2 linked regions of the Homo sapiens genome follow. The protein of the gene in region 1 purifies or fractionates together with the protein of each later gene. This does not show direct contact. Each region holds a gene or a part of one and is shown on either strand. Other genes may lie near its edges.

What was found.
Region 2: the proteins of SPAG11A (region 1) and FAM118B purify together in Homo sapiens (affinity purification with mass spectrometry, with the first as the bait; one large-scale study listed by BioGRID). This does not show direct contact.

Annotation. Positions count from the first base shown.
Region 1 is NC_000008.11:7,846,440-7,850,931, reverse strand, and holds the start of SPAG11A (sperm-associated antigen 11A isoform 3 precursor), read right to left. Parts: upstream 2,925-4,492; 5' UTR 2,886-2,924; coding exon 2,825-2,885; intron 2,242-2,824; coding exon 2,089-2,241; intron 917-2,088; coding exon of another isoform or gene 789-916; intron 1-788. UniProt on the Homo sapiens protein: Has antimicrobial activity against E.coli. Plays a role in the defense response in the male reproductive tract, contributing to sperm maturation, storage and protection.
Region 2 is NC_000011.10:126,239,201-126,243,016, reverse strand, and holds part of FAM118B (protein FAM118B), read right to left. Parts: intron 2,226-3,816; coding exon 1,973-2,225; intron 1-1,972. UniProt on the Homo sapiens protein: May play a role in Cajal bodies formation.

The sequences.
Region 1 (4,492 bases):
CTCTCCCCTCTCCGGGAATGTAATACTGCGCTTCACACACTTTTGCTGCTTGCTTTGCTGTCTGAGTATCACATCCAGTTCTTTGTTCAGGACACCAAAAGCCTGGAATTGCACAGCACCATCGGGTTATAAATGGGTCTCTGCATTTTGTGTCTTCTAAGGCCACAGAGAACAAATGGGTAGTTTTAAAGGGGCACAAGAGGACTTCCAGAGGGTATTCTTCCAGGTTTAGCACAAAGAGAACAGGCAGTAACTCCCAGCTCTCAGTATCTCCCCAGAAGGCATTTGCCTGCACACTCTCTCAGCTGCTGCTAGAGAACAGGGCTTCGAACTGGCCTGCAGGTAGGAGATGATGGGGCTGATGGAGAATGGGTTTGACCACACACCTGACACCTCAACTACATTTCACAGTACTTAGAATAGAATGGACTCCATTGCACAGTACCTAGAATAGAAGTAGGTATTCAAAAAATAGTTTTTAAATAAAAGAACAAATTATTTTAATTCTTTCTAATAAAAGTTTATGATATCCACATTTACTAGCACAAATTGTGTGATTTTGAAAATTCTGTTCATGTCAAGCTAAGTCATCTTCTGTAAGATCACAGGTAGCATTTTTGTCATTTATCTTGCCACAATAAAATATTTGAACTGTCTGGCACAAGTGGCAATATCTCCGCTCCCTGCTGCTCAGACACTTCCGCAAAAAACCTGCACCTGATTGGACAACGTGGCCCCGGAGAACAGGTAAGTGGCAGAGCTTTGTTTCTATATCAGCAACATCAGTTTTAATGTAAACAGCAGGCGTCTTTCTTTTTAGAGCAGTAGCCTACTTGTGTTTCCATATAATTACAGTATTCTTGGCAGAAGCCTTCACTTCTCCTGCAGTCAACAACTTTTAAATCTGATGCAGGTTCTGCATTAAAAAAAGAAAAAATCCAACATTAGCTTCTTAAGACCATCTCCAGAATCAAACAGTGGTCATTTGAGCCGTGAGGGACAGGGTGGGGGTGGCATGGATATGAAACAGCTTTCCATAGTTAATAGCTTCAAGTTCCAAACTAAAACATCAACTCCAGATATATAGCTCTGCCCCACTAAATCTCCTTTAACCAAAGGAAGGAATAATCCTGTCTCACAGGAATACTGTTAGACTAAATAACACACGCCTACTATTGCACCTGTTTATATTTGTTGTGTAATAATTGAGTTTTCTTTTTCCCTTCCCTTGGGAGGAGATCCAGATGAATGAGTCCTTTGGAACTGTGGGCCAATTAGAAAGGGATGGGAGGTTGGGTAGGATGCTGCAGGCATCAAATTCAGCAGGACTTTATTTGCTGGATGTCACAGCAATTTGCCAACACCCTCCTGTCTTTCTTGCTCTTGCCCACTGATCTGCTAACCTAGTTCTCCCTGTCTTAGGGTCAGCAATCAGCTTGGCATTAAAGAAGCATCTTGGAAACTACAGGCTCTTCCAGGCCCTTTTGGATTTGAAGCTGGTCCTGCCCAGGGGTTTGGGGGCTGACCAGAAGCCTGGCCCTTCTGGAAGAGTCCAGAAGAGTGGCTGTGGGCTCAATTGTCCCTTGCCATGTCCTGCTACCTCCTTGCCTGAGTAGACTGACAATACAGTCTATTCTCTGCCCCCATCCTCAGGAAGCATTTCCCAGACCTCAATGGACACCTGAAACTTAGTAGGTAGGTATTCAGTAAATTCCTTGAACGGGAACGACCTCCAAAGCTAAGGGCATGGGGCTGCAACCTGGCAGGAGGCCATGTTTCCACCAGTGTCTCCTCTGGCACCTGTTCTTGGAGGAAGCCAGCAATTACTGGTGTGGCTTCAGATAAATTGCCTTTTGGCCCCTCAATACTCCCACGTTCCACAAGGCCCTCAATGATCCAGCCCCAGGGGAAGCTGTGAGACCCCGTGGTCTCCCTGACAGGCAGGGCAGCCCAATGCACCCGCACCATGTCTTCCCCAAACAATGACTGCTCACCCACCCCGACCAGCACAGACATCTTCCCGTCTATTTGTTCCCTCTACGTCTCCCCAGTGGATGCACTTGTTGCACGTGTTGGTCCCTGACTCACCTTGGTAAGGTGGGGTGCGCGGTGGTAAGAGGTCCCGTTTCACTGCGTGGCGTAGCAGCTGAAACCCGTTTGTGCCTTGCCCAGGGGCTCTTTCCCTGAGTTCTCCGAGAGCCTCAGTGGCTGAGTGGTTCACATGTCTGGCTTGAGACGATCCTGTGCAAGTGGAAACACACGTCTGCGGATGCTCTGAGGCCTCCGCCTGGCAGACCCGTCAGCATGAGGCACCTACACTCTACCAGGTGAGTGAGCATGGGTGATTGGGTGGGGGAGTTGGGAGGGGTGCTAGTGTTCCGTGTGTGTGCACATTTGTGCACATGCGTTGTATGCACCTATGTGTAGAGAGAGAAGGTGAATGAAGTGTAAGAAATGTATGCCATGAATGGTGAGTCTGAGCACCTCCTCAAAGCCAGCACAGCCAGAGAATTTATTTCAAGTGTCACTAATGCAGTTGTTAAGATTCCCTAAAATGTAATGTTCTTCTCTGTAAGGGAAAGGGGAATGTTAAAAGGATAAGAAAATGGAGTCGGGGAGGGACACTCTTCCCTGGGAAGCAAGTGCCATCAGCCAATTCAGAGTGCCATTTATGAACCCAGTTCAGAGACTCGTACCCAAAGCTCCACCAGGAATACATGCCCCAAGGACTTCATCTCTCCCTGTCCAGCCTGGACTCCCATACCTCAGATGACCATTGCAGAGAGATTCTGGCACCCAGACCCGGGTCACCTTTCCATTTTACCTGGAAACAGCAGGGCCACAAGGAGAAGGCTGGTGACGGACGGGAGCAATCGTTGCCTCATGTCTGCCAAGAGCACTGCAAGCCAGAAAGCACCCAGGGTGGGTGGGCAGGCAGCGGGGCTCCTTTGATGGAGTGAGGCTGGGTGTGTGGGCCCGGAGCGTGGGAAGAGCTGTGCTCCAGGATGACTTCTCATTCTCAAAGGACAATGTGGACACGCTACTATCCCACTGCTGGTGGAACAAACACTTGAGACACATATTTCAGGAAGTAAATAATACGCCTGAATGCCTTGGGTGGGTTTGGTGAATAAGGAAGAACAGAGAGAAACAGAAAGATGAAAGGCATGGAGGGGCAGAACAAACATAACTATCATAAAGTTGCCAATGTCCTCAAACGCTTCTCAAAAGCCCCCTAATGTTCATGAGAACAGGGACATAAATAAACTGCCATGTCGATTCTATCCTGTTGGCTGAGCGTTTTTATTTTAGTGTTAAAAAATCATGCATAAGACACACAACATAACAGGTAGGACCTGGTTTTACAAACTATCCCTTCCTGAAGTTATACAGAGAGTTCCAAGGCTGCTCAAAATGTTCTTTTCTTTTTCTTCTCCTCTCTGAGTCTCTCTCCCTGTTTCTTGGTCCCCTCCACTTCTCCTTCCTCACTTTGGACCCCCCTCCTTTCTATTTTAACTTATTTGAGTTGTCTTGATTTTTCTCTCCCCTTTCCATTCTCTTTACCCCCAGACACCTCCTGTTGATGTCACTGGGTCCAATTCAATTCTTTTAAAAAAGAAAAAAAAAATCTGTGTTTGAGTCTGGGTTTTCTCCTCTAGTAATATCCAAGCAGAGGACTTGTCTTCCCTTCTCCTTCATCTTTTTAAGCATTTTAACCAAGTGTGTGTTTCTTACTTGGCTGCATTAGCTCAGGTATGCATGTAACCCAGACAGTCTGCTCTGGACTTAACTAAAGTGAAGAAGGCTTTGGTTGAAGAGTTTTGTATTCACATAGCATCCAATGTAACATCAGTGATGTCTGGAAAAGATAGTGCTTATCTCATATGTCTCATTTGCATGTATATTTTAATCCAGACAGAGAAAACAACTTAGGTCATTTGTGTAAATAAAAATACTTACTCTCTACCTGGAGAAAGCTGGAAGCAAATGGAGAAAGAGGCAGCAATGACAATAGAGACCTGGGCATCCGCTGAAGCACCAGCAAAGGGCGGAAGGTTTGCAGCTGCGGACAGTTGCACATAGCAGCTGCCCTGGCAGCACAATGCGGAGGCCACTATCTTTTGGGTCTCAGGACAGATTCTCCACTGCAAAGCATGAGGTGCTGGTCAGGGAGAGCAGGAGCATCATTCACATCCTTTCACTTTAAGGAATTAGGAAGTCTTCCAATTCCAAGAGCACAGGGCAACACTGCGGAGATAGGTGACAACTGGCCCATGATAAGTTTCTTTAATCACTTACTGCATCAAATTCTGATAATTGGATGTTGGAAGAACATAGACAGTCAAGAAAGGAGGTAGACAGCTGCTCTACCTCAACCCTAAATGAAGATTTATTCGCTCATCTACATACTCTGGGTATTTTTTATACTCTAGTTCAATAGCAACTTCTTACAGTTGTATTTGTAATTATTTAAACTTGGAATGTGGATCTT
Region 2 (3,816 bases), on another chromosome or scaffold:
TTAACATTGCATGGACAGACATTTTGTTTCTCCATTCATGAACTAGACATTTGAGTTGTTTCCACTATTTTGGCTATTATGAATAACGTTGCTATGAACATGAGTGTACAGTTGCTGCATGAATATGCTTTCCATTCGCTTAGGTATATACTTATGAGTGCAGTTGCTGGTTCATAGAATCACTGTTCAACTTTTTGAGGAACTGCCAATCTGTTTTCCAAAGCAACTGCATCACTTTACATTCCCACAAAGGTTCCAATTTCTCCACATCCTTAATAACACTTATTATTGTCTTCTTGATTCTAGTCATGCCAGCGGGTGTGAAATGGCACCTTGTTGTGGTTTTGATTTGTATTTTCCTAATGACTAATGACGCTGAACATCTTTTCGTATGCACTTATTGGCCGTTTGTGTATCTTCTTTGGAGAAATGTCTATTCAACTACATCGTTATTTTAAAATTGAATTATTAGCCTTTATTAAGTTACAGTAGTTCTTTATAGATTCTGGATATTATACGCCTATGAGATATGTGATTTGCTAACATTTTCTCATTCTGGAAGCTGTCTTTTCACTTTTTTTTTTCTTTTGGTAGAGACAGGGTCTCACTATGTTGTCCAGGCTGGTCTTGAACTCATGCCCTCAAGCAGTTCTCCTGCCTTGGCCTCCCAAAGTTCTGGGATTATAGGCATGAGCCACCATCCCCGGCTCACTTTCTTGACAGTGTCCTTTCAGCCTAACAGTTTTTAACTTTGGAGAAGTCCAGTTTATCTATATTTTTTTTTACTTTAGTTTTTTGCATTTTTGGTGTCATGTCTAAAAAACCACTGCCAGATCCAGTCATGAAATTTTAAATCTGTATTTTCTTCTAAGAGTTTTACAGTTTTAGGTATCATATTTAGGTCTTTGATCCATTTTTAATTTTTATAAAGTGTATGGAGATTCCATGAACTCTTTAAAACCCCATTAATTCCTTTTTTTTTTTTTTTTTTTGAGACGGAGTCTTCCTCTGTCGCCCAGGCTGGAGTGCAGTGGCGCGACCGCAACTCAGTGCAACCTCCACCTCCCGGGTTCAAGCCATTCTCCTGCCTCAGCCTCCTGAGCAGCTGGGATTACAGGTGCCCACCACGCCTGGCCCTAGAAGCCTGATTTTTAAGATTTTAAAACAGGCTGGGTGCAGTGGCTCATGCCTATAATCCCAGCACTTTGTGAGGCTGAGGTGGGCAGATCACTTGAGGTCAGAAGTTCGAGACCAGCTTGACCAACATGGCAAAACCCTGTCTCTACTAAAAATACAAAAATTAGCTGGGCATGGTGGCACATGCCTGTAATCCCACCTACTCAGGAGGCTGAGACAGGAGAATCGCTTGAACCCAGGAGGCGGAGGCTGCCATGAGGCGAGATCGAACCACTGAACTTCAGCCTGGGTGACAAGAAGAAGATTCCATCAAAAAATAAATAAATAAATAAATAAATTTTCAGACAAAGCAAGACAGGGAGTCCTTTTATCCAACTCAGTTTGGTAAAATAAGGTGCAATTCCTTCTAAATATTTTGACTTATTACCTCTAAAAAGAACACTAAAAACTGGTTTTGTTTCATGTATAAAATGATAAAATTATCTCCAATCTTTGTGGGATTCCATACAAGGCATGGATGCCACAGAACACAGCTTTTATAGTAGTGATGCAGGAAAAAAATAAATTCAAAACACAGTGGTAATTTGTACATATAAAGTCCTCAACATCATTTCTCTCTCATAGACACACAGTGAAATGGGGTTAAGACAACTGTCCTGAGTAGGGTCCATAAACAGACATTGCGCAGAAGAGTCAAATGTTATGGAAACCTACAAGCTGTAAATGAATATCCCTGTTACATTTGGCATGCTAGTTTTGACAGCCAAATCATGCTAGTTGTGATAGTTAAATTTTAGGAAATTCCAAATACTGTGGCACATACTAGGGTACTCACAGGAGAGAGTTTCTGGATAAGGTCATGGGCAACATGGACCAGGTTCTTGTCTTCATGGAGACATTTCTGAAACTTTTTGCTCTCCTCATCTTCTAAAAGATCAAAATCAATGGCAGCATCCAGTAAGGCCTGAATTAACCCCTTCCAGGATTTGAGGGCTGGAACTTGGGGCGCAACTGCAGCACTAATGCCTGTTCCAATCACTAGCACAAGTTCTCGAGGCTTCTTAGTTTTTAAGCTTGGAAGCAGCTTCCTATAAAAGCAAAACAAATGAGAGGATTGGAATATCCAATAGATATGAGGCACACAGAAAGACTGTCTGACTCAGGTTACAGTTTTTAGCTAACTTTTATAGTTGCAAAGAAGATGAACAGCAGTTTTTGACACCTTTCCAAAGCAGTTTAAAGAAAACAACCAGAATATTGTGTCAGTGCTTGCTGAAAAACAAGTCATAAACCTATTTCAGGAATCCCAAAACCAATCTTAAAATCAGTTTTCCCTTCCTAGTCCTCTCAACCTAAGAAATTCCACTAATATTAGGAAAAGATCCAAATAGACTATAGCTCAGCTGACTTCTGCCAACTAAATTATATTTTAAACCAGTATTAAATTTCAAAAGAAGACGTTTGATTTGTACTCTAGAAAAAGAGAAAAGAACCCCAGGACAAATTAAGTTCCTATTATTGAGAAATGTAAAACACTAGGGGAAAGGCAATACAAAATTTAATTCTGAATTTTGTAAACATTAACCTCAGGCAAAAAAAAAAAAGAAAAAAAAAGTGGCCAATAGAATTCTGAAAACACAGGGGCCCTACATACCTAAATAAAGACATTAACTAATCAAAGGACATGACAAAAAGTGAAAAACATTCCTTTCTTACCATGATAAGCAGAGACAGACTTCTCTGTTCTGAGGCCCATATGTGAGACAGCATGGGTGCTAATTTTTGTTTTTGTTCCCCTCTCTTTCATTCTGGAGACTATCCCTGCTTGAAATATGTTCCTTCACATTAATTTTTGCTGATGGCATGTTCCCCTCCCCTGAAAATGGCTTCTCCCCAACCTTTTTGTCTAAATAATAAAATGGAGAGGATCAGCATTTTGGCATAACTCAAGAAAGGAATAGCACTTTCAAGCCTTGGGAAACCTGGTTTTGGGGACACAGCCTCTAAAACTGCTTTCCCTAACCCGAGCTTCTGCATTCAGTCATTCAACAAATATGAAAAACCGAGGCCAGGAGCAGTGGCTCACGCCTGTAATCCCAGCACTTTGGGGGGCCAAGGTGGGCTGATTACTTGAGGTCAGGAGTTCAAGACCAGCCTGGCCAACATGGTGAAACTCTGTGTCTACTAAAAATACAAAAATTAGCTGGGTCTGGTGGCGCACACCTGTAGTCCCAGCTACTAGGGAGGCTGAGGCAGGAAAGGAAAACCTGTATGTACCAGACACTACGGGAGTCATGTATCCATGAACAAAATGGAGTCCCTGATCTTGAAAGATCAGTCTACTAGAAAAGACATTAATAATAGATGTTAGAAGCAAATGATGAAAAATGAGTTTCAGTTCAGAGCAATCAAGATAGTGAAGCATACACAAATCCACATAAACAAATATACACACACATAGAAAATTTCTAGGATTCACAAGATGTATAAATAGTGGTTAAATGGGGATAGCAGAGAATAAGGACTTTTTACTTTTCATTTTATACTGTTGTACTGTATTTTTTTATATAACATACAGATTTGAACTATAATTCTTCCTAATTAAGACTTCCAATTTGGCTAAGTGCAGTGGTTCATGCCTGTAATCTCAGCACTTTAGGAGGCTGAGCTTGAGCCCAG